Regions from separate parts of the Homo sapiens genome. Here regions 2, 3, 4 and 5 are each linked to region 1. The links come from fine-mapping of genetic effects on gene expression. A gene starts in region 1. Each other region holds a variant in brackets. All regions are shown on one strand. Distances are from middle to middle.

Region 1 (4,121 bases):
AAGGGAAGCATCCTTTACTCCCATTTCTAACCTTGGCTACAGCTATTTCTCACCCTTAGCAACACCCAATCTTTCCTCTTTATAAAAGCCTTCAGACCACTGCGCATATCTTTATCACAAGTAAGCCCTCCCTTCTCTTGATCTTAGGACCACGTGAGGCTAGGGTTGATCTGACAGGTTATGCGAACACACACTTGGGAGGGCAACATTCAAATATATATCCCCTGTCAGTAGCACAGTAAGCTCAAAATATTTTTGTTGAGTAAACAGCATATGTACTCTGTGAAGGCATGCAGGTGGTATCCAACAGTTCCCATTTACTGTATTTAATATGGTCATAATAACTTCAGGGTCTTAGAAATATGACAATCGTATTCAGATTGAGGGGAAAAAAGGCCAATTTCATAAGCCCGGGACGACCAGTGGATGCAGGAAAAGCACAACGGACACTGCCTTGACCACTTTCTAGCTGTGCGATTCTTATGCCAACGAGCCTTTACAGGCTTCCTGCCTCGTCTGTAAAACGGGGTAAAAACAACTACCTCATGCACTGTTTCAATAATTCACTTTAAAAACAACAAAGTGCTATGCAAATGTTCTTGATATTCTTAGCCATCTAACATCTATGCACGCTCTACATTTATATTTCCTTCGTTAACTGTGGAGCCGTTCCTAAAGGGAAGCTTTTAAAGCGATAATGAAGATGCTCAGAAGAGTTCAATACAAGGTTACATGTGAAAGGAATGTCAGCAGCCTAAGAAAAATCAACCTAGCATCAGGTTTCATTCCAGGGGTGTTGAGAACCTGGAAAAAAATAATCTTTGGTGGGACACTCCTAACCTATCACCGCTGGGTTCCCACGGGCCAGGGTCGCACCCACGGCGAGCACCCCTTCATTTTACCTCTCCCCTCGTCTTTGCTCCCAGCCCACGCCCTCCCCAGCCTCCCACCTCAGGACCGCTCCGCCTGCCGGCCGCGGCGCCCAGCACCCGGCATTCCCATAAACCCCTTCGCCCGGAGCTTCAGAAAACGAAAGACAAAGCCACCCGCCCAACCCGGCGGCCGGGGCGCGGGTCCGCGGGGCGCCAGAGCCGGGCATGCGCAGAGGCCGCGGCGGGCTGCCGGCCTGGAAGAGCGAGGTTGGGGCGAGAAGCCGCCGGGACCCATAACTGGGTCGGCGGTCCGAGCCCCGCCTGCCAGCGCCCGCGGCCTCAAGGGCCGGGTAGGAGCGGCAGGGCGCCGGCGAAAGGCGGGGCGGGGGCGGCGCGGGCGGCGGGGGCGCCGCGTACCTGGTAGCGGCCAGTGAGCAGCTGGCTCCGCGACGGCGTGCACAGCGGCTGCGTGTAGTAGTTGTCCAGGAGCACCCCGCCGGCCGCCAGCGCGTCCAGGTGCGGCGTGCGGATGCGGGAGCCGTGGAAGCCGACGTCGTTCCAGCCTAGGTCGTCTGCCAGCAAGAAGACCAGGTGGGGCGGCCGGCTGGCCCCGGCGCCCGAGCCCGGCGGCGCCAACAACAGCAGCAGCAGCAGCGGGAGGACGACGGGGAGGAGCAGCCGCCGAGGTCCGGGGCCTCGGGGCAAGCTCGCCGCGCCGCGCGGACCCATCCTTGTCCGCCCGCGGTCCCAGCGCCTGTGGCGCCACCAGCCCCTTGTACCGCTGATAGAATGAGGAACTGGGCTGCCGGGGCCTGCTCCGCCCCGGCGCGGGACGGCACCCCCAGCGGGCCGTGGGCTTGCGAGGCCGGGCGCTCGGCCCCCGCCGCCTCCGACCCGGGCCCCCGGCTGCTGTGGCGGAGGAGGAGCCAGAGACGAACCCGCGGGCGCCCGCTGCCCGGCTTCTTGGAAACTCAGCTGACGCTTGGAGGGCACCAAGGCCCGTTATCTTCCCCGGCAATTAAATTTGCACTGTGGTTTCCTAAAAAAAAAAGATGTGTTCTTTAATAACGCTTCACAATTTACAAAGCATCTTCACAGCCCGCGTCTCCTGTAAAGCCTGCAACAACTCTGACAGTTAGACATTATAATTAGTGCCAATTTTTCATAAGAAAAAAGCTTATAAATGGTTAAACCTCTGACTCAGATCCTGAACCATGATGTCTAGCTAGCAAGTCATTTCTAGCACAAGAGCCCAGCCTGTGGCAGGTGGGAGGACGGTGAAAAGGCAGAGGTCTAAATAGCCTTTCACATTCATTTATGCGTAGTGTACACCCATGAAGCCGCTTCCTCCCCACTAGCAAACAGGAGGCCAAACACACAGTCTGATTGCACGGTGCCCTTTGGAAGGTGCGGTTACTTTCAAGTTGCCCTGGGAGGATTTGGAGTGTTGCGTGGTCATTGAATAAATAGCTCATTCGCTTGTCCGGATATGACCCCACTCAGAGCTGGCTCCCCCACTAAGCAGTGACACTAAGAAGCACACAGTATCTAGTTAGCCTGAAATATCTGAGTGGAAGGAAAAAATCCTTTAGTCACGTGCTTATTGAATTAGGAAGTTAGCCGTATGACCAGTAGATTCCCGTTGCCATCCAGACTTTCTGTCTACTCTGTCTGGAGATATTATAGTTGTTAACAGGTGTAGGGGAAAATTTTTGCATTGCCTAGAGACCATACCCTTCCAGGTTGAGTCTGATTCCGTGGAAGTTGTTTACAACTTTATAAGTTATAGATAAATAACAATGGAAAATAATTCTTATTTATATATACACAAATGAACTTTATCCAGCGGAGTAGCAATCCTTCCCCTCCACCACTACCAAGGAAAACAGTTTCACCTCCGCTTGCATATTTATTTTAGTATTCCTGATCTGTTCTTTGGATTGTCCTTTGAATTGGTTTTAACACCTTACCAATTTCCTTATTAATGAGTTAAATAAAATCATGTATTCACTTTTATATTTGTATGAGGGTCATGATTTTACCTTTTTTTCCCCAAGAATCCTTTAACACATGAAATGTTTGCCTCTTACATACACTTTTTTTCTTTGCATGAAGTAGATTAGTTTATGTTGTATGCACTTTAATCTCTAGTGGAATCAATGAAATTTAGCAGAAAAAAGTGAAAATTTTAGCATTAAATTCAAAGAATAACTTTTGAGAGAACTGTTTGACTCATTATGTCAAGGGTTGAACTTTTCATTTAAACACCCTGTAGAAGACCTTGAAGGACTGAGAATTTCCGCTGTGGTTTTGTGTCTTTCTCCCCCGTAATCCTTCCTATTCTCCTTGATAAAAATTAAGAAGAAATAATTGATGGGTGCTAATCTGCAGGAACAATTCCTCCTTTAACCAACTTCCCCTGAAACTAGCTAAACTTGCACAGATTCTTACGTCCTATGTTTTTAAAATAAAAGCATATGTTAATAGTGCTCTGGAAATGTGCAAATTGAAGAGTTAATTCTATTTTCCATCTATGTATTGAACACATAATGTGCAGTACAAGCTAGTTATTTTATAAAATCTCTCAATTGGAGTTTGATGTTTCTTCACAATTAGATAGAGGTTATGGATTTGTGCAGGAATACCACAAAAAGTGATGTGGTATGTTTCTCGGTGCTTCCTATTAAGAGGCACATGATGCTGAATTGCTTTCTTATGGGATAACTTTGTTAAGGTAAACATTTCCTCATTGTAAGGTTAATATTTTCTTCTTGTAATTAATAAATATTTTATGGAGAGATAATTTGAGAATATGTAAATATCCTATTATGCCTCACACACATTATTTTGCTTACCAGTTTTAGTATCTTGCTTCTTGCTTCAATTAGTTATAATTAGGATGGCTACCAAATGCTGATTTTCTAATTCCTTCATTTCCTCTATATTTATGAGTTGCCTTTCTACTGTAAGGAAGAACTTTCCCTTCTCATTTATTTATTTCACTATGAATTCATGAATTCTTGTTTTAATCAATATGCTATAATCCTTTGCTATAGTTATTTCAATGCTCAAATTTTCTCTGTTTTGGCCAGTGGGAGCCCCTACAATCTGGCTCATATCCTTTTGGCATGTCCTCTTGAATCTTTGAGCATGTCCACACATTTTGATACAATGAGATTTTCTAGCCTCAACTTGCACTTTTCCTCTCCCAATCCTGGAATCAGACATTTCTCCAAGCAACACTGATTC
Region 2 (4,121 bases), 110 kb before region 1:
AACAGCATGGTACTGGTACCAAAACAGAGATATAGATCAATGGAACAGAACAGAGCCCTCAGAAATAACGCCGCTTACCTACAACTATCTGATCTTTGACAAACCTGAGAAAAACAAGCTATGGGGAAAGGATTCCCTATTTAATAAATGGTGCTGGGAAAACTGGCTAGCCATATGTAGAAAGCTGAAACTGGATCCCTTCCTTACACCTTATACAAAAATCAATTCAAGATGGATTAAAGATTTAAACGTTAGACCTAAAACCATAAAAACCCTAGAAGAAAACCTAGGCATTACCATTCAGGACATAGGCGTGGGCAAGGACTTCATGTCCAAAACACCAAAAGCAATGGCAACAAAAGCCAAAATTGACAAATGGGATCTAATTAAACTAAAGAGCTTCTGCACAGCAAAGGAAACTACCATCAGAGTGAACAGGCAACCTACAAAATGGGAGAAAATTTTCGCAACCTACTCATCTGACAAAGGGCTAATATCCAGAATCTACAATGAACTCAAACAAATTACAAGAAAAAAACAAACAACCCCATCAAAAAGCGGGCGAAGGACATGAACAGACACTTCTCAAAAGAAGACATTTATGCAGCCAAAAAACACATGAAAAAATGCTCACCATCACTGGCCATCAGAGAAATGCAAATCAAAACCACTATGAGATATCATCTCACACCAGTTAGAACGGTAATCATTAAAAAGTCAGGAAACAACAGGTGCTGGAGAGGATGTGGAGAAACAGGAACACTTTTACACTGTTGGTGGGACTGTAAACTAGTTCAACCATTGTGGAAGTCAGTGTGGCGATTCCTCAGGGATCCAGAACTAGAAATACCATTTGACCCAGCCATCCCATTACTGGGCATATACCCAAATGACTATAAATCATGCTGCTATAAAGACACATGCACACGTATGTTTATTGTGGCATTATTCACAATAGCAAAGACTTGGAACCAACCCAAATGTCCAACAATGATAGACTGGATTAAGAAAATGTGGCACATATACACCATGGAATACTATGCAGCCATAAAAAATGATGAGTTCATGTCCTTTGTAGGGACATGGATGAAATTGGAAACCATCATTCTCAGTAAACTATCGCAAGAACAAAAAACCAAACACCGCATATTCTCACTCATAGGTGGGAATTGAACAATGAGATCACATGGACACAGGAAGGGGAATATCACACCCTGGGGACTGTGGTGGGGAGGGGGAGGGGGGAGGGATAGCATTGGGAGATATACCTAATGCTAGATGACGAGTTAGTGGGTGCAGCGTACCAGCATGGCACATGTATACATATGTAACTAACCTGCACAATGTGCACATGTACCCTAAAACTTAAAGTATAATTAAAAAAAAAAAAAAAAAGAAAGGGGCTACATTTAGCAAAGAAACTGCACTTCACTATAGCAATACACAGCGCTCTTGAAGCACCTGAAGTAAATGAAAGTGTCCAAATCCCACTCCTACGGATTGCCTGCTATCTTAGATCCAGGAAACGCCAACATACATAAACGTGAACAAAACCAAAAAGAACTCAGCATCTATGCAAAGTTACCATACGAGTTAAAAAAAATAGAAAATGAGAATTCAAAAATTTGGCAAATGAAAACATTCTCCTACTATGGAAAAACAGTCATAAGGCAGAAGAAAACCATTACAGGATATTTCAACATGAATTAAATATAATGAAATCATCAACTGCCAATATTAAAGAAACAACAACCATGATTCAGAAATTGTAAAACTCAGACATCACACTTTTTAAAGGAAGGGAACTGGGAAAAAAAGGACAAAATCTTAGAAATGACAAAACATTATACATGACATTCTCTATGTGAAAGCGTGTAGAGAATAGAAATTAAAAGAGAAAGGATAATTAATTCAAAATAAAGAAAAAATAAAGAGGCAAAGAGGATACGAGAGAAATTGACAGAAACCAAATTTATGTAAAGAAGATTCAATAATACCTATAACTAGGAGTTCCTGAAGAAGAAAAACAAAACAGTAGAATATAATATTTAAAACTGTAATTTTTTTTTTTTTTTGAGACGGAGTCTCGCTCTGTCGCCCAGGCTGGAGTGCAGTGGCGGGATCTCGGCTCACTGCAAGCTCCGCCTCCCGGGTTCACGCCATTCTCCTGCCTCAGCCTCCCAAGGAGCTGGGACTACAGGCGCCCGCCACTACGCCCGGCTAATTTTTTGTATTTTTAGTAGAGACGGGGTTTCACCGTTTTAGCCGGGATGGTCTCGATCTCCTGACCTTGTGATCCGCCCGCCTCGGCCTCCCAAAGTGCTGGGATTACAGGCGTGAGCCACCGC[A/G]CCCGGCCTAAAACTGTAATTTTTAAAAACTCTGAAATAAAAGAAGATCTGAATATACAAAGTGAAATAACTCACTTTTATCTGAGAAAACTGACACAGTAGGGTCACCTTTGTGACACATCTGGAAAAATTCTTAGATTTTAAATCATAACTATAATAATAGTGATAATAAAAAATCTTCTGGGTGCCCAGACAAAAAACACAAAGTCACTTGCAAAGGAATAAAATCAGGCTGATATTAGACTTATCAACAGTAACATAGAAAACAAGCAAAGATTAGGGTAACATTTTCAAGAAACTCAAAGCAAGAAAGTGTGGGACAAGGGTTTTATTTTAACCGGTTGAGCTGGTGTTCAATTATCAAGGTTGTAGAAAATGTTTTAATAAACATGCAAGAATTCAAAGAATCCTGAGAAATCTATTCAAGGATGAATTCCTCCAACTAAGAGATAATTGTGAACACTTTAGAAGTGGATGGGTGGTCAGTATTGAATATATTATTGAAGATCTAAAACTAAAACAAAATTGTGGATAAAGAGAGAACAGTATTACATATTACATGCTCTGATACAGTAGGAATAACACTACTTAAATCACAAAACTGGAAGAGAATGAAAAGTTACATAAGTTGCTTGATTTCCTTATGGGTAATAAGTGGAAGCTGAAGATGTCATTTAAATGTGACAAACCAAATAGTGGAACCTAAGTAAGAAAAAAGGGACTAAGGAATTATATAAAGATATTTGTATAATGATAAACAGTAGGATAAAATATAAATTTTTCTAAATATTAAAGAACTACTAAATAAAAGGTCAAAGATAAAAAGTAAATGTAACAAAACAATGAAAAAACTAAGAATAGAAATAAAAATATTTATAAATATGTATAAATTCATCTACTAAAACATTACAGACTGGATCATAAAGAAAAACCTAACACTATACTTAACAACTACAGAATACGCATTCTTTTCAATTACACCTGATGTGGACAACAAGAAAGACCATCTACTAGGCCAAGTCTCAAATTTAAAACAATTAGCCCAGGAGTGATGGCTCACACCTGTAATCCCAGCGCTTTGGGAGGCTGAGGCAGGAGGATTGCTTGAGCCCAGGAGTTTGAGACCAGCTGAGGCAACATAGTGAGACCCTGCCTCTACAAAATAAAAATTTAAAAATTAGCTGGTTATAGCAGTACATGCCTGTAGTGCCAGCTACTTGGGAGGCTGGGGTGGAAGGATTGCTTGAGCCCAGGAGGCAGAAGTTGCAGTGAGCTATGATTGCACCACTGCACTCTAGCTTGGGTGACAAATTGAGACCTTGTCTCTGTTAAAAAACAATAATAATAATTGAAATAATACAAAGCATTTCAATTATTTGTGGTCCTCAAAACCACAACTGAAATAAACTAGAAATCAATAATTTAACTAGGGAAAAACCCAAAATTTGGAAACTTAACAATGCACTTCTAAATACATGGTTCAAAGAAAAAAATCACCATTTGCACCATTCCCCATAGAATACATTCTTTCAAATGAAAGAACTCAAACATAAATAATTACATTCAAACATAAATAATATTAATATTCTAACATTCAAACATAAATACATTCAACATATTACATTCAAACAAAAATAATATTAATAATATACAGAATTCTTGTTAAATCCTTTCTGCTCAAGATGCTGTAGACGTTAGTTTATTGTCTACTGGTGAGTATTATTATAGCAAAGTGAACCAGGTAAAGGCAAACAAAAACAAGACAGGATTGCA
Region 3 (4,121 bases), 100 kb before region 1:
CACAATCAAAAACCAATGGTCTGTTAAATAAGGAAAAAAGATGTAGTAAAAAAATGCTGAAAAGAAAAATTCTAAGGAAATATGACAAAATGTTTATAGTAGTTGTTTCTAGGTAAGATTTGAGTGATTTTTTTTTTTTTTTTTTTTTTTTTTGAGACGGAGTCTTACTCTGTCGCCGAGGCTGGAGTGCAGTGGCACCGTGTTGGCTCACTGCAACCTCCATCTCCTGGGTTCAAGCAATTCTCCTGCCTCAGCCTCCTGAGTAGCTGGAATTACAGGTGCCCACCACCACACCCGGCTAGTTTTTATATTTTTAGTAGAGACGGGGTTTCACCATGTTGGCCAGGCTGGTCTTGAACTCCTGACCTCAGGTGGTCCACCCACCTCAGTCTCCCAAAGTGCTGGGATTACAGGCATGAGCCACCACGCCCAGCCAATTATTTTTATTTTTTGTAGTTTGCAAATTATCTACAATGACATATAGTACTCACGCTTGGGGAAATTAAATTTAAATTTAACATATCAAGTTTAGATCATGGATAGAGGCAGAAATGTTTCAAAGAAAAAGAAAAAAAAGTCATCGCATATGAATGAGCACATAATGAGCACAAAGCTTCAAAATTTCTGGTGAGAGAAAAGGTTTTACTGCTTTGCTTCTCAGCTTAGCTGTTCAGTGGCATTACTTTTTCTGTGACTTGGATGCTGTAGAGTGTTCTTGAAATGACAAATCATAAACTGATCACTGTCTCCAAACTGACAAATCAACTTTTCAGGCAAGAATAAGAGGGAACAATTTGAGGCTAGTGAGGATTTTAAAATAATATGAAAATAATATGACTCATAAGAACCAAAATAATGTTTAGAAATGGTGAAGAAATGGCTACCCAATACTATAAATGTTGCTGCTTGAAAAGTGATCTTTAAAATTTAATAAATTCTCGAAGGAAAACATGGAACTTTGAGTTGCAAAATAATTGAAAGAAGGTTATAAAGCTAATTAAATCAGATTTTCCCTTGGGTTTGTAAGAGATGAGGACCTTCCCTAGTCTCACCCTTCTGGGTGAGGCCCATTAGAGAGGAACCCATAGACTCCACGTTGTGAGAGGTTGAGCGGCCTGGCTGAACACTTCTTCTATCCATTCCTGAACTCACAGGACTTTAAACTTTAATGTTTAAACTTGAATAGCTATCAAACTTCCTTTGTAAAAACTAATCTTAGGCTGCTGAACCCTACTATTTTTTAACATTAATTATTAATTACAGAAAAATTGATAATATAAAAAGATAAGAAATAATCTATATATTTTGCAACTGGAAATTGGTCAAAGTATGGTATTTCCAGAGTGTTGAATACTATGATTATGTTCAGCAGGGACTATAAACTTAAATGCCTACAGAGACTAAGTAGGTAACCTAAATGAGTGCAGTGGATCTGTATTGGAACTTGGGAACAATAGAGATTGAAGATTTGAAGGGTGGATACTTCATCTACAGAAGGCAGCAGCTATTTGATTCTAGTCAGTTGTTGGCCTTCTGGAAATGTGGGTGCAGTGCTGTCAGACCTTCCTATTTTTAAAACACTTTTATTTGGAAATAATTTCAAATTTACAAAAAGTTGCAAAAATAAGACATAACAAAAGAATACTTATGCACCTTACCTATATTCTTTTATTTAATTTTGCAGTCCATTTGAATTCTCTCTGTGCACATGTACATACATACACACACACACACACACACAATTTTTTTCTGAACCATTTGAGGGTATGTTAAATATATCATGGCTTTTTGCTCCTAAATACTCCATTGTGTATTTCCTATAACTAGAGACCTGAAACCTGCTATTCTTGAGCTGGGATACCTGGAGTGGGATGAAGAGATGGCCTGAGGAAGTCCTCTCCCCCTGGCCACTAAGGGACAGTCAATCAGCTGCTAACCCCAAACAGAGCTGTAACACCAAACAGAGGTTGAAAACCATTGCACTAGGTCATTCCACCCGTAAAAATAATACCTCCAATATATGCATATTTATTTATAAATTAGATTTATGTACAAGTCTACTAATATATTATGTGTCTTAAAAAACATATACTTTAAAAAGGATGAGATGAAATTAGATATTAATACAAATACAAGATTGAAATTTTCTTCCTGTACTCCAAGGGAACATCTTGCAACCTCTAAGGCATGTGCCTCCCAACCTTGGGGGCTATTGCTCTACACTGTGGGGGTTAAACAGGAAAAAGACCATCACGATTTCCAAA[T/C]CTGAGTCTGGGTCCTGTTCCCTGATGTATCTTCTTCACATCAGCCAGCTCTATCTATCACAACATACTTTTTTGCCTTCCTGGCACTTATCACAACTGGCAGTCATCTTGCTCATCTGTGTGTTCATTTGTCCAACATCTTTCTCCCCCAACTAGAATACAGCTTCCTGAGAGGCAGGATCTTGACTGACTTGTTCATTCCTAATTTCTCAGCATCTAGAAGAAGGTATGGCACATAGTAGGTGCTTGTTAGATACTTGCTAATAAATGGAAATAAACATATCCCTAGTTCCTATTCCAGCTTTTTCCCTGCTGTTTTGTCCTCCATTCTTCCAGCAGACAACAGGACTAGTTCCCTGACCCCCTGCAGGAAGCTAACAATACCCTAGCCTACTTCTAAGCAAAACGTCGCAGCTTCAAAGACCTTCCATGGAGGGCGATGGGCTGAGGACAATCTTGTTCTTCACGTAAAACACAGGCCCACAATCTCAAATTTATAATTTAAAAATATATATACTTACAATGTCTCTAAAGGCACTTATTTTTCTTAAAAATCATGTATTTGTAAGCTGAACTATCATTTTAACACAAAAGCTATCATTCTTGCTCAATGGAGTCAGGCTGCTCTTGGAGTTTCTGTCCTGGGAGGAAAAAGGGCAGGGTGTAGGTACCTGATGGTTTTCCACACGTCGAAGCCATCCAGAGGCTTTGTGCCATTGGTGTGTCCCCTGGCCAGCTTCACGAGTGTTGGCAGCCAGTCAGAGATGTGGATGAGCTCCCGGTTCTTCACGCCCTTCTGCTTCAGCAAGGGGCTTGCCACAAAGCCCACCCCTCGGACGCCTCCTTCCCACAGGCTCCATTTTCTTCCTCGAAGGGGCCAGTTATTACCCCCTGCCAAAGTCTGCCCTCCGTTATCTGAAACACAGTAAGGTCTTGGCATGAGGATGATGTTAACTCTTAAATACATTTAAGAACAGAGACTGTATGTACATTGTTACTAAATGGTGCTTAAATAATAAAAAAAAAGAAAATTCCTTGCCTTTTCCCACCCTAAATTCCCTTTTCCCATTGACATAGCCTTTCATTATTCAGACATAAGTAAGGCCCAGTGTGATACATATCTACCTTTAAATCCTCCATGGAGAGAGCCACTGGAAAACAAGGCAGTCCCTCGATGATATGCGCTTTGGAGATCCCTAAGCTAAACAATCCACTAAACTTTAAATACACCTGTGTAACTTTGTATAGCATGGGAGAATGAGTCCATGGAAGCTGGGACCCTCTCCATGCATGAAGAGAAAACTAAGGGAATTTCACTTAGTGACTTAATGCTCCTTATAGGTGGAGACAAAAACTGACCTTTTTCTTTTCCTCTTGGAAAAAAAATTCTACAATTTAAACTGGAAAATGAATTAACACTCTACACTCTGGCAATAATATCTCTTTCTTAAGTGTGAAAGCTGAGTATTTCTCCAGTGGTTGATAAATGTCTCTGTAAACAGAACATTAGATGGAAAAATATAATTGTGAAAAAAATTTTTCCCCTCTTGACAGGATGGTGAAATAAAGTTTCATTATGCACAATACCAGGGAAGAGAAGGTTTCTCTTCCAAGACAACAGAAGGAATGGGAGATCTTGGCAAAGACAGGGTAGAAGCTACTAGAGTAACTGAAGTTAAGTATCTTCCCAGCCAAATGAGGGCTCAGAGTTAAGACATTAAAGTGGGCAGTAGAAAAGAAAAAGTGCCATTTCTTACATACTGGGGTTATAGAATCATACAAACTCCCAAAGTATCCACAGATTTAGGTGACTTTAGAGACACATTTTAAATAACACATATTTTGCATTAAACTTTA
Region 4 (4,121 bases), 200 kb before region 1:
AAAGGAGTGAACAAGGCAAGAGTTCTACTCTTGTGGAAGACCCTGGTGGGTCCACAAGGGCCCTCACCTCACTCCTACTTATGCCTATGGTTGAGGCCTAGCTGAATAACATATAGTCTGTTTTAAGCCCACATTTATCTGTTAGCTTTTCAAATATGGTCACAGCAATCATCTTGGGATCACTTCGAAAGGTTGCTGAACCACCAGCCTAATAATTAATTGTCATAATATGTGATATGTCTGTAAAAGTATAGACTCCATTGGAGTGGTTAACCCATCTGTCTGCCTTCCTTCGATAATAGACTTTGAGAGAGCCCTTATCCTCACCCAAGCAGGACTTCTGTGCTCCTGGGGTTTTCATGCAGGGTGTGTCGGTGGTGGAAAAGGCGGGACATGCCATTCTTTTGACAGTCTTTTGGAAATGACCTTGTAGAGACAAGCTGGAGACAGATCCGGCAAACACTGGTGCTTTCAGAACTTCAGTCTCAACAATCACACAGCAGCAAATCTTTAGCACCAAAGAGGAAAATATTTTTGACTTCTTGTTTCTCTGCTTGCGGATATTTTGGCTCCAATACAAATGGATACTTCTAGTACTTGAGGTGCATGAGCATGTCTATCACAGGAAATGGTTGCTAACATACAGACTGTGGTAAAACTGTGAACCCTCATGGTTTACTCCTCACAAGTTTGTATGAAGGCCACATTTTGATACCAAAGAATGTTAAATAAAACAAGCATGTTTTGTGAACACAAACAAAAAAAGGAAATTTAACTATCTCATCTATACTTATATTTATACACATTTTTTTCTTAAGACAAACAGGAACATAAAATACCTAAACAATAAATAAGCCTAAGACTAAACTATGAAAGATACTATTATCTTGACTTTATTGTTTTCATTTTGAGAAATTAAACAAAGGGAAAATTACAAAGAATAATATGACTAACACCCTATGAGCCATCACCCAAAATGAACAGATGTTAACATTTTACCATGTTTGCCTTTTTTTAAAAAAAATAAAAGAAACTGGACAATAAAAATGAAGTTGAAGTCTCCTTTGTTCTTATCCTCAAACCCTGTCCTTTCATTTACTCCTCTAGAGGCTGCTGCTATTGTGACTTCAGTGCATCCTTCAGCCATTTTAAAATGCAGAATACATATGTGCCAAGGGATAATATATAGCACTGTTTTATGCTTTAAAAATGTATGTGTGTACTGTTGGTGGGAGTGTAAATTAGTAAAGGTATTATGGAAGACAGTATGGAGGTTCCTCAAAAAATTAAAAATAGAACTACCATACAGTGCAGTAATCCCACCACTAGGTATTTATCCAAACGAAAGGAAATCGGTATACTAAAGGGTTACCTGCACCTCCATGTTTATTGCAACACTATTTATAATAGTCAAGATATGGAATCAACCTAAGTGTCCATCAATAGATGAATGGATAAAGAAAATGTGATATATAGACACAATGGAATACTATTCATCCACAAAAAAGAGTTTGTTGGTAAAGCCATCTAGGCCTAGAGTTTTCTTTGTGGGAAGGTTTGAAATTATTGATTTAATTTCCTGAGCAGGTATAGGACCATTTAGATCTTCTATTTCTCCCTTTGTCAGTTTTGATAACTTGTATTTTATTAGGAATTTGTGTAGTACATGTGAACTTTTGTTTTGTATTATCTTTTAAATGTTTGTAGCATCTGTAGTAATATTGCCTGTTTATTCCTGATATTGGCAATTCATGCTTTTCATTTTTTCCCAAGATACGTTTTGCTAGTGTTTAATTGATTTTATTAGTCTTTTTTTTTTTTTTTTTTTAGATGGAGTCTTGCTCTGTCACCCAGGCTGGAGTGCAGTGGTGCGATCTTGGCTCACTGCAACCTCTGCCTCTGGAGTTCAAGCAATTCTCCTGCCTCAGCCTCCTGAGTAGCTGGGATTACAGGTGCATGCCACCATGCCCAGCTAATTTTTTGTATTTTTAGTAGAGACAGAGTTTCACCATGTTGGCCAGGCTGGTCTGGAACTCCTGACCTCATGATCCGCCCGCCTTGGCCTCCCAAAGTGCTGGGATTACAGGC[G/A]TGAGTCACCGCACCTGGCCTGATTTTATTGGTCTTTTCAAACAACAAACTTTTGGCCTTGTAGATCCTATCTGTAGTATGTTTGTTTTCTATTTCATTAACTTCTTTTATCTTTATTATTTCCCTCCTTTTATTTTCTTTGGGCTTAATTTGTTATTTTTTTTATAACCTTTTGAATAACAGATATTCAACATTTTCATTTCTAATACGGACTATGAATTATCCAAGCACCAATGTAAAAAACATGTAGTCTGAAGTTGTTGGGCTCAATGCTCTGTATATCATTTAGGTCAAGTTTGTTAACTATGGTGTTCAAATCTTTTATATCTTTATGGACATTTTTGTTTGTTTGCTTGTTCTATCAGTTACTGAGAGAGGTATGTTAAAAATCTCTTCTATGACTGGATAATTATTTTGAAAACTCCCTCTTTAATTCTAATAGTGCTTTCCTCCTTTAAATCTACTTTATCTGATGTATAGATAGCTCAGTTTTTAGCTGTCATTGTTGCTGCTGTTAGTACCTGCATAATATATTTTTTCCATCCATCTGTCAACATGTGTGAGACTCTTATGCAATAGAAAGAAGTATAAAACAGGGTATGATAGGCAGGATAATGGTTCCTCAAAATGTCAACATCCTAATCTCCCAGAACCTATGAATACATCACCTTCCATGCCATAAGGGACTCTGCAGGTATGATTATAGGTAAGACCTGTAAGATGTGAGGATTATCTCAGATTTATCTGGATGGGCCCGATCTAATGACATGAGTTCATAAATGCAAGGAGTACTTCTTGATTATGGTCAGAGGGAGATGTGGCTGCAGAAGAAGGGTCAGAGAGGTGGCAACTTTTCCTTCTAATCAATAGGGAGACATAAGAGGAATTTAAATATATTTTTTAAAGAGTATATCATATAGTTCACATATGATCAAATTCACCCATTTTTAGTGTAAAATTCTATGGTTTTTAGTATGATATATTCACAAAGTTGTATAACCATCACTGTAACATATTTTAGAACATTTTTATCACCCCAGAAAGAAACCCTGCACCATTGGCAGTTAATCCCCATTTACTCCCACACCCTCCAGCCCTAGGCAACCCTTAACCCACTTTGTGCTCTGGATTTACCTATTCTGGACATTTTATATAAATAGGATCAGACAATATGTGGCCTTTCGTGTCTGGCTTCTTTCACTTGGCATAATGTTCTCAAGGTTCATTCATTTTGTAGCACGTATCAGTACTTCATTCTTTTTAAATAATGAATAATATTCCTTTCATTCCTGTATATTGCCAAAAATATACCACATTTTCTTTATTCATCAATTAATGGACACTTCTTTGTTTATACTTTTTGGCGACTACGAGTAATGTACCATTAACATTCATGTACAATTTCAGTGTGGATGTACATCTTCACCTCTCTTGGGTATATATCTAGAAGCAGAATTGCTGAGTTATATGGTAAGTCTATGTTTAACCTTTCGAGTAACTGCAGAGCATTAAAAAATGGCTGAAATGTGTTCTGTATTACATTCTCAATTTTATTCTTTTTAGAGACAGGATCTCACTCCATCACCCAGGCTGGAGTGCGATCTTAGCTTTAGCTCACTGCATCCTTAAACTCCTAGGCTCAAGCGATCCTCTCACCTTAGCCTCCAGAATAGCGGGGACTACAGGCACATGCCATCATGCCCAGCTGATTTTTTATAGAGATGGGGGTCTTGCAATGTTACCCAGGCTTGTCTTCTGGCCTCAAGCAATCCTCTCACTCCAGCCTTCCAAAGTGCTGGGATTACAGGCATGAGCCACCATACCCACCCAATTTCATCCTTTTGTATATAGATATCTCAGTTGTCTCCAGAACCATTTGTCTGAGAGAGTATTTTTTTCCTCTTTAATTGTCTTGGTATCCTTGTCAAAACCCAATTGACCATAAGCATGAGGGTTTATTTCTGGACTCTCGATGCCATTCCATTGATCTATAGTTATTAAAAAATCGATAACCATCTATCTATCTATCTATC
Region 5 (4,121 bases), 78 kb before region 1:
TATTTTTCCATTCATTTCAAGAGTGTTCAACTTTGTCTCATGGAGAATGGTTACAATAGCTGCATTAAAGTTTTTGTCTGACAACACCAATATTTGGATGATCATCTCAAATGAGCTCATCACAGCTGAAATAATCTATTTTTAGTCTTTTCCCTTGAGTACTGCTCGTATTTTCCTGTTTTTTTTTTTTTGTATAATGAGTAATTTTGGACTGTCTATTAGACATTTTGAATACCATGTTCTGAGCCTCTAGGTCTAGTTAAAATCCTCTCGAGGGTGTTGATGTTTGTTTGGTTAAGCAGAGAATCAACCTAGTGAGACTCAGACCACAAGTTTTGTCTCACCTTCTGTGGACAGTGGCTCTAATGTCAGTTTAGTTTTTAAAGCCTTTGCTATGAGGTTTGGGTTTGCCCAGCGCATGTGCCACTCAGGGGTTAATCTAGGACCTGGGCAGTGGTTCACATGGCAGTTGAGTTTTCGAAGCCTCTGCTTTGCTCCTTTGGGCCTGTGTGGCATATATGCACTTGGAGGTGAGCCTGGGGCTTAGCTCATACACAGAATCAGGGGATCCTCTTCTCCAGTTCTTCTCTCCCTTTAGATCCTTCAGATCCACCCCCAACCTCCGCTCCAGGGGCCCCTTTATGTGGTTTCTCTGATCAGAAAAACAGGTTTCTGTTAGGTTGTAGTTCCCCATTCTGTCATGCACTTCTGCATAACTGAGGTTGCCTTTGGGAGCAAAGTAGCAAAAAAAAAAAAAAAAAAAAAAAAAAAGAGGAAAATAACAGAGATTATCTCACACTCCGGTCAGAAATGTGGGTCTTCTTTTGAGATTTTAGGTGCCTGCACCCCACCACAACACCAATGCAGATCTTCAACTGGGGCCTGTCTTGGGGTAGAGTTAAGAAAGAAAAGGGAAAGAAAAAGAAAAAACAGTCTGGACACTGTGGCTCACACCAGCCAGGCAACATAGTGTGATCCAATCGCTAACCAAACATAAAAAATTAAAAAAAAAAAAAATTAGCCAAGTGTAGTGGTGCATGACTGCAGTCCCAGCTATTTGGGAAGCTAAGGCAGGAGGATCACTTGAGCCCAGGAGGTAGAGGCTGCAGTGAGCTATGGTTACACCACTGTACTCCAGCCTGGGCAACAGCGTGAGACTCAATCTCAAAAAATTAAAAGAAAAGAAAAAACAAATAAAATAGGAATTCCCCATATTCTTGAGCAAGAGCCCACTTTCCTAGACCTCTGGTTAGAAGTAGGAGGTTTCTCTTGGAGATGTTGCTGCCAGTGCCTGCTGCATAGTTCCATAATTCCATTGGCTCTTAGGTCAAAGCCAAGAGATAGAGGAGAGAAAATAAACCTCCAAAACTCACCACACAAGGGATTCATGAAGCTTTGACTTTATTCCCCATTCTCCATTCACCTGATTTTGTTTTCTTCTCTGTCCCTATTCTTATCATCCCTGCTGTTATATTAGGTTGGTGCAAAAGTAATTGCAGTTTTCGAAAACCTCAATTACTTTAGCACCAACCTAAGTACTTTTAAGAAGCCTCAGATAGTTGCTTTCAGTATTATCCAGAGTTTTTAATCAATGAGAAAGATATTTGTTGACTTCCTCCATCCTGGTGAGCACGGGAAGGTGGTGCCCATGATTTTAATGAGAATGGGCTAAGGGAACTTGTGATACTTGTCTTGATTTTTTTTAAACCTTCATCTGAATTGATACAGGAGCATACTTCATGTCAGGTAAGAATAAAAAAGGAAACAATTATTTGACACACCTTAATTAAGCACCTGCTAGGTGCCCGCTACTCTGGGAAAAGGCAACAGGGGTTC[A/G]ACACATGGTCCCTGCTTTCGAGGGAGGCAACATCCACAGAAAGCATAGCCTATGTGAAAAAATACAAGACTGTACACAACTAAGGGCAAAAAAGATACAGAGAAAGGAAACAAGGTAAAAACTGGGGAATTAGAGGTGACACGGAGGCCGTTCAAGCCCCCAGCTAGACCTTGATGGAGAAGACAAGGCACTTTCCATCAGAGGGCAAGGGGATGGGGCGGGGTGATTATTATTCCAAAGTTGGCTTTGTACCTTTTTATTACACAGTGAGTTTGTTTTCCCAAAAGGAAAGAAAGAGACTGTTTCTAAGGGCATTTGATCACTCCTGACCCTGTTCTTCCCTCGCCTTCTCTCAACGTGGTGGAAAAGTGTTTCCAGGACTTTGGTTCAGAGTGAGGACTGGAGGCCCAGCCACACTGGAGTGAGTCATGAGATCTTTCCTGGGGAGTCTTGAATTACCACATACAAAACTCTCAGTAACTGTCGGAACTCAGCTGGTTGCTGGTTTTGCTTGCATGCTTTAGCTGCGTTAAAGCACTCGGTAGTTTATTTTTCATATTTTATTTGGGTTAATTCCTAAAAATCACAAAGGCAGCGCCTTCATGCTAGGACAGTATCTATTATATTTTTTAAAATTTTGTTAAGTATTCAGGAAGGCTTTGCGTGGACTGCTCCTGTTAGAAGACAACCACAAAGCGGGGGAGGCCACGGGTAGAGCGGTTGCACAGATGGCAAGTGTAAGCAAATAGCGGCCAAGTCCATTGTGAAGTTTCACTTGCAGCTGTGTGGAAAATACCTATGCTGGTGACTCAATGTCTTTGGATTTCTAGCTTTAAATTACAGCAGAGAAGACTCATTTTCAAGTGCTGAGCATATAGGGAGACTGGCAAATGTGGGCCAGTTTTGAGCCCATCAGTTACCATACACTGCACTACAGAAGGATAATTAAAAGCAGGGGGAAGGGGGAAGTCTTGTGGTAATCAGGGCATCAAGCATGGTACCTGGACAGCTGGCATGGCAACCAACCTGACAGCAATACTGTGTCTATTTCCAATAATAGAAATTTAGCTCCCTTCCAGTGTAGCTGTATGCTGGGGTCTTGATTTTCTTTTCTGGAATGAGGTGTGCGCAGATGCAACGTTATTGCTCACCTGGCCCATCAGAGTCACGTATAAATGGTCAGGCCAGTGACTGTATCATACTTGTGCCTCTCACAGTTTTGTCTGGGAACTCTACCTTGTGTTGTAAAAGACCTTGTGTCCTCTGACCCCCCTCCCCCGACTTCCACTCTCCTCTTGGTCTGCCGCTGGGACTGTATTTTGTCGCTTATCTAACACAAAATAAACAGAACAATCTGGAGCTAATTTAAGTGGTTTACCATATCAGGATACAGCTGGGAAAGATTTTAAGAAAAGGCTCAACAGGAACAATAGCGCTGTGAAGTGGAGCAGCAGCGGAGAGCACAGGAAGGCAGTTTCAGGCAGCCTGGCAGACAGCTGTCAGCCACTCCAATAACAATTCCTGCAGCCAATGAAAACGGGCAGGCTCTGTGCGGGCAGCCTGGCCGGAACACCAACAATGAAAACAAGGGATTAGAGAGCATTCTCAGTTAATGGCTTGAGTGTCAGGGCCACCAGTCTCCCGGGAGCCAGTGCTCCCAACCAGCAAGGACTGGAGAGGAACTGCAGATGAAACAACACTTCATTTCTCTACAACACTGGCCAAGACTTTTTTTTTTTTTTTTGACATGCATGCATCCACGCTGGCTTTATCCTGACTTATGAATCCAGCAAGGCCCACAGAGGAACATCTGGTTTTGACATTAATTTCTTCTACTCTGCAGGATGGTTGGGTTTTTAACTCATTGGGGGCCTTTGGCTAGACCTTGAATTTCCTGGTGCAACTTGACAGAGGTGAGAGGGCTTGAGGGAGTTAAATAAAACTATGTGCTGCCCTTGAAAGGACTTGCAAATGCTTTATATATTAAACAAAGAAACTCCACTTGGATCAAGCTCTTGACAAAGATCCAACCAATTAGGTAAACGGTATAGTCTCGAAAGGCAGTGACATTTCATGCAAGGAATACTGAATTGGAAGCATGGAGACTTGGACTCTTGGTCTACTTCTGTCACTGCAAAAGGTTTCTGGGTCAAAGTTTCCTCACTTAGGACCATGTGCCCTTATCCTCTTCTTCATCATTTCATTTATGATATTAGCTTATGCTCACACATTTTTTTTTCCAGAGAGTACTTGACTTAGTAAAAATTTCCCTCTAACAACAGCA

What was found.
Region 2: its variant is fine-mapped to the expression of ARSB in fibroblasts (GTEx, PIP above 0.99).
Region 3: its variant is fine-mapped to the expression of ARSB in whole blood (TOPMed, PIP above 0.99). The same link has a PIP of 0.9 or more in blood mononuclear cells, iPS cells, monocytes and testis.
Region 4: its variant is fine-mapped to the expression of ARSB in whole blood (TOPMed, PIP above 0.99).
Region 5: its variant is fine-mapped to the expression of ARSB in fibroblasts (GTEx, PIP above 0.99).

Annotation. Positions count from the first base shown.
Region 1 is chr5:78,983,648-78,987,768 of GRCh38, forward strand. ARSB (arylsulfatase B) reads right to left here and starts at 1,663. Exons shown (of 8, transcript NM_000046.5): 1 at 1,290-1,663. The coding sequence starts at 1,601. RefSeq lists a silencer at 986-1,845.
Region 2 is chr5:78,871,439-78,875,559 of GRCh38, forward strand. The region is part of intron 5 of ARSB (arylsulfatase B); the gene reads right to left. Among named protein-coding and RNA genes, the nearest start is that of ARSB, 110 kb to the right of the region's middle. The variant A/G (reference allele first, on the strand shown) is at 2,349.
Region 3 is chr5:78,882,649-78,886,769 of GRCh38, forward strand. It overlaps ARSB (arylsulfatase B), which reads right to left. Exons shown (of 8, transcript NM_000046.5): 5 at 2,936-3,179. Among named protein-coding and RNA genes, the nearest start is that of ARSB, 100 kb to the right of the region's middle. The variant T/C (reference allele first, on the strand shown) is at 2,265.
Region 4 is chr5:78,782,990-78,787,110 of GRCh38, forward strand. The region is part of intron 6 of ARSB (arylsulfatase B); the gene reads right to left. Among named protein-coding and RNA genes, the nearest start is that of LHFPL2, 140 kb to the left of the region's middle. The variant G/A (reference allele first, on the strand shown) is at 2,089.
Region 5 is chr5:78,905,167-78,909,287 of GRCh38, forward strand. The region is part of intron 4 of ARSB (arylsulfatase B); the gene reads right to left. Among named protein-coding and RNA genes, the nearest start is that of ARSB, 78 kb to the right of the region's middle. The variant A/G (reference allele first, on the strand shown) is at 1,837.